Regions from separate parts of the Homo sapiens genome. Here region 2 is linked to region 1. Evidence: fine-mapped expression QTL. Tissue or cell type: whole blood. Region 1 holds a variant in brackets; the other region holds the start of a gene. All regions are shown on one strand. Distances are between the middles of the regions.

Region 1 (2,918 bases):
GCATTGTGTATATGTACCACATATACCAGCCTGTGTGACAGGGCAAGACGTGTTTCTAAAAAAAAAAATTTTTTTTAAATACTCTGCAGTATTTTTTCAAAATCTACAGTCACTTTTTCCTAATAATCAACTTTAAAAAATATTTCAAAATAAGCTTGAATTTGGCCCTTTGCTCTCACAACACCAAAACACCATTTTCCCAATTACAGCACAGCAAACACACGACATTCATTTCTGTCTTCTGAATTTTCTGCATGATTTCCTCTTTGAAAGTTTTCTTTTTTAGTTCACCTATTCACCCAAACCTTCATTCCCCAAAACAATTCACCAAATTATGCTGCCCTTTCATTCAGACTGTGCTTGGAATTTCCCCAGCAATTATCAGTGATACCAGGCTCTTGGGTACAGCCTTCTCTATATTGTCATGTAGTTGTTCCATGTGTTTATTCTTGTCTCTCAAAAAAAACAGGGGCGGCCTCCAAGCCAGCAAAAGTTTATCGTAAAAAAAAGAAAATCTGTGTACTCTCCTCCCCAATATCACTTTATATACCCCACACACTTGAATTACTGATGTGTGAACATGTACATTTTCTTCCTAATCTAGGCCAAACCTCTTCAGCCAACAGTAGCATTATAGTAAGAGGGTTTTTTAATTCTTTTTTTTAAAGTTTTTTTTTTTTTAATTTAAAAAAATGATTTGGGGGTCTCACTATGTTGTCCAGGCTGGTCTCAAATTCCTGGGTTCAAGCCATCCTCCTACCGCAGCCTCCCAAGTAGCTGGAATTGCAGGCACATGCCATGCCTGGTGATTCATTTATTTCAAATAGTTATCTTTTCTTTTTTAAAATCTAGAAGGACATAGTCTTGTAATAAATGTCCCAAGTAATATTTTAAATATGAGGCATACTTCTACTTATGCAATTAAGTGTAAATGTTATATAAAATGTTAGTTTAAGAAATTTCTTATTTTTAATTTTTGTGAGTACATAGTAGGTGTATATATTTATGGGATACATGAGATATTTTGCTACAGGCATATGATGCATAAGAATCACATCAGGGTAAATGAGGAATTCATCAGCTCAAGCATTTACCCTTTCTTTGTGCTACAAATGATCCAATTATAGTTGTTTAGTTATTTTTAAATGTATAATAAATTATTATTGACTGTCGTCAACCTGTTGTGCTATCAAACACTAGGTCTAAATCATTCTAAGTATTCTTTGGTACCCATTAACCATCCCCATTTTTCTCCCAACCCTACCTCTCAGCCTCTAGTAACCATTGTTCTTCTCTTA[C/T]CTCCTTGAGTTCAATTGTTTTAATTTTTAGCTCCTACAAATGGGTGAGAACATGTGAAGTTTGTCTTTCTGTACCTGGCTTATTTCACTCAACATAATGACCCCCACTTCCATCCATGTTTTTGCAAATGACAGGATCTCATTCTTTTTTATGGCTGAATAGCACTCCATTGTGTATATGTACCACATTTTCTTTATCCCTTCATCTGTTGATGGACACTTAGGTTGCTTCAAAATCTTAGCTATTATGAACAGTGCTGCAACAAACATGGGAGTGCGAATATCTTTTCAATATACGAATTTATTTCTTTTGGGTATATCCTTAGCAGTGGGATTGCTGGATAATATGGTAACTCTATTTTTAGATTTTGAGGAACCTCCAAACTGTTCTCCAATAGTGGTTGTATTAGTTTACATTCCCACCAACATTGTATGAGGGTTCCATTTTCTCCATATCCTTGCCAGCATTTTTTTTTTTTTAATTTGAGACAGGGTCTCACTCTATCACTCTATCACCCAGGTTGGAGAGGCTGGAGTGCAGTGACATGATCACAGCTCACTGCAGCCTGGAACTCCCAGGTTCAGGTGACCCTCCCACCTCAGTCTCCCCAGTAGCTAGGACCACAGGCATGCACCACCATGCCTGGCTAATTTTTTTTTTTTTTTTTTGTAGACAAGGTTTTGCCATGTTGCCTAGGCTGGTCTTGAATGCCTGGGCTTGAGAAATCTTTCTGCCTCGGCTTCTCAAAGTGCTGGGATTATAGGCATGAGCCACTGTGCCCAGCCCAGTGTTTGTTCTTGCCTGTCTTTTGGATAAAGGCCATTTTAACTGGAGTGAGAAGATATCTCATTGTAGTTTTGATTTACATTTCTCTGATAATCCATGATGTTGAGCACCTTTTCATACAACTGTTTGTCATTTGTATGTCTTCTTTTGAGTAATGTCTATTCAGATCTTTTGCCCATTTTTAAATCAGATTACTAAATTTTTTTTCCTATTGAGTTATTGGAGCACCTTATTTATTCTGGTTATTAATCCCTTGTCAGTTGGATAGTTTTCAAATATTTTCTACAATTCTGTGGGTTGTCTCTTCGTTTTGTTGATCGTTTCCTTTGCTGTGCAGAGGCTTTTAAATTTGATGTGATCTCATCTGTCTATTTTTACTTTGGTTGCCTGTGCTTCTGGGGTATTACTCAAGAAATCTTTGCCTATTTCAATGACCTAAAGAGTTTTCCCAATGTTTTCTTGTAGTAATTTCATAGTTTGAGGTCCTCGACTTAAGTCTTTAATTCATTTTGATTTGATTTTTGTACATGGTAAGAGGCAGGGGTCTAGTTTTTTTCTTCTGCATATGGAGATCCAGTTTTCCCAGCGTTATTGAAGACACTGTTCTTTCCCCAATGTATACTCTTTGCACCTTTGTTGAAAATGAGTTCACTATAGATGTACAGATTTGTTTCTGGGTTCTCTAGTCTGTTCCATTGGTGTATATGTCTGTTTTTATGCCAGTACCATGCTGTTTTGGTTACTGTAGCTCTACTAGTTGGTGGGTCTGTCATATATGGTTTTTATTATGTTGAGGTATGTTCCTTCTGTATGCAGTTTTTTGAGAGTTTTTT
Region 2 (2,918 bases), 79 kb before region 1:
ACCAGTTTCCCATTTAAAAAGTATTATTATTGTTATTAAGTATTAACCATTTGTCTAGTATCATGGAGTAGAAAAGAGGCACAAAAGAAGTTTGTATTGTGCCTGTGGGAGTTTCACCTCAAAGCGGGAATCCCAACTTGAGCCAAAGTTAAGTTTGCACCGACATTCAGTCACCATCTGGGGGATTTGGGAGGGAAAACGAGTGTCTTCTGTAGTGGAAAAGGCATGTTAGTATGGAGCTTTGGTCCAAAGTCAACAGATCAGTGTTAAAGAGGGAGAAGTTTAATACTCAGCCCTTGTGGACTCATGTCCTTGGGAGAAAGACTTCAAAAAACATTCCGTAAAAACCAGAGAAGCTGTTTCCTGGATATCTGCTAAGGCAGCTAGAGCTTAGGTCAGCACAGCTTTGCAGCCTGAGTGTCAGACAGCAGCTCTGGGGCTACTGCCTGAACAGGAAAGTGGGCAAACCTCATCCTGAATTGAGAAGATGTGGGAGTAGACCTCATCCCTTGATGGTCTTAGTTTCCTGGCAATGGCAGGAGCAGCTGCGATTTTGGCAGGCTTGGCCACCAGTGGTGGCATTTATACAGACAGGAGGCAGGGAAATACCGGGTAGAAGAGGGAGGTTCCCTCCCAAAGGCCCCACCCTCAAGCCTGGAAACCCATGACTTTAAATGGGAATAGGCATTCTTGTTTTTGCACCCAAATGTTGCCTTTTGGCCCACCATGTCCACCCCCCATCTTGTACCAATATAAACCCCAAATTGCAGGCTCCATGAGCAGAAAAGCAGACGAATAGAAGAGCAGAGGAACAGAAGAATAGCAGTGTGGCCGAGCAGCGTGGTAGAGAAAGAGGGAAGAGAAGCAGCATCTGAATGTTGAGAGGAGTTTGGCTGGGGACAGTCGGAGAGGAGATTGGCCGCAGGACGACCCAACTCCAGGGGAGGAACATCTTCCTACTCCATTCGCTTCCCCACTCCCCAGCCATTCCACTGAGAGCCACCTCCATCTGGCAATAAAATCTCTTGCATTCACTATCCTTCAATTTGCCTGTGTGACCTGATTCTTCCTGGATGCTGGACAAGAACCCAGCATCCAGGTACCAAGAGGGCACTGGGCTGGATAACACTTGAGCTGTCTGTGGACGGCAGAGCTAAAAGAGCACTGTAACATGCCCACTGGGGCTTTGGGAGTTGCAGGCACCCACCCTGGATGCTACTACCATGGGGCTGGAGCCCAAAAGTGTTTGCCCCGCCTCCTGCACCTGCCCGTCTGCATGCTCCCCCTCCAGTAAGGGGTTTGAGTGCACAGAGGCTGAACAGATGAGCCACACCCCTGTCACACATCCTGTGAAGGGGGTTAGGAAACTCTCCCATTTCATCTTGACCATCTTTGAGGGACTATTGATGCTTTTGGTATCAGCAGCCACAGAATTCATCAGACACAGCACAAAAGAGCAGGAGAAGAGATAATGGCAGATGCCAGAAGGTAAGAAGGAATTCGCCTGTGAGCAAGTGTGAGCTGTGCCCTGGGGGTATCTTAAGTGCGGGAGAAATTCGAGAGAGTTGGAACTTCTAGAAGTGGGAAGTGAAGGACAGAGCCAGAGAATGATACTGTTGTGGTCATTGTGATATTATTTTTATCCCCAAGATGTGGTATCTGGAGTGAGGTACAGAATATAAAGCCTAACCCTAGGCGGGCGCGCGTGGCTCACGCCTGTAATCCCAGCACTTTGGGAGGCTGAGGTGGGCGGATCACGAGGTCAGGAGATGGAGACCATCCTGGCTAACACGGTGAAACCCCGTCTCTACTGAAAATACAAAAAATGCCCCGGGCGTGGTGGCGGGCGCCTGTAGTCCCAGCTACTCCGGAGGCTGAGGCAGGAGAATGGCGTGAACCCCGGAGGCGGAGCTTGCAGTGAGCCGAGACCGAGCCACTGCACTCCAGCCTGGGTGACAGAGCAAGACTCTGTCTCAAAAAAAAAAAAAGAAAAAAGCCTAATCCTACATATACGACTAAGGAGATAGAGTATCTTGAATTTAGACAAGGCGATTAAGTCTCTATCATGGACTGAATGTTTGTGTCCCCTCAAAATCCATATGTTGAAGCCCTACACTCAATGTTATGCTATGAGGAGGTAGGCCTTTTGAGGGGTAAATTAGATTGAGCTGAGGGCATGAGCATGGAGCTTCCATGGTGGGATTACTTGCCCTTATAAGAAGAGCAAGAGACGCCGGAGCTTCCTCTCTCCACCTAGAAGGTGACCATTTGCAAGCCAGGAAGAGAGCCCTCACTAAAACCCAAATCTACTGGCACCTTCATCTTAGACTTCCCCACCTCCAGAACTTTGAGAAAATAAATTTCTGTTGTTTAAGCCACTCAGCCTAACCAGTACATGACCAATGATCTTCCTCTAGTTTAGCAGCAAATATTAAATATTTTCATTCACCTATTCATTTATTTCATTCAACCAGTATTTCTGAAACACCTATCCTGTGCTGTGAAGTACTGATAATGGATTAGGTACTGAGCTAGGAGATGGAGATTTTTGTTTTCATGGGCTCCCATTTTGTAGAGCAGAGATGCATGAGCCAGCACCCCTGAAATATTTGTTATTTCCTGAAGCTCCATGCTGTCTTCCAACTCCATGTCTTTGCACAGTTGTTCCCATTGGTACACTTTTCTTAACCTGCCCCACCCAACAGTCTATCTTGAAAGTTCCTGTTTATCTTTCAAGACTCGGCTCAGGTATTACTTCCTTCCCTAATTCTTCCTAGACATGCCTTTTCTGCGTTTATATTGAAAAACTAAGCCTTAGAAAATTTAAACAACTTACCCAAGGTTATATAACCATTAAGTTTAAGAGCAGGAATGCAATCCCAGGTAAGTATGGCTTTACCTTGGCTCCTGTGTAGACT

The links. PIP is the estimated chance that this variant, and not a neighbour inherited with it, causes the effect. A credible set is the group of variants that fine-mapping cannot tell apart.
Region 2: LIX1-AS1 starts here. The variant in region 1 is the best candidate, but not a certain one, in a credible set for the expression of LIX1-AS1 in whole blood (INTERVAL, PIP 0.67).

Annotation. Positions count from the first base shown.
Region 1 is chr5:97,151,205-97,154,122 of GRCh38, forward strand. No RefSeq gene overlaps it. Among named protein-coding and RNA genes, the nearest start is that of LIX1, 10 kb to the left of the region's middle. The variant C/T (reference allele first, on the strand shown) is at 1,299.
Region 2 is chr5:97,072,351-97,075,268 of GRCh38, forward strand. It overlaps LIX1-AS1 (LIX1 and RIOK2 antisense RNA 1), which reads left to right and starts at 1,375. Exons shown (of 8, transcript NR_187470.1): 1 at 1,375-1,488.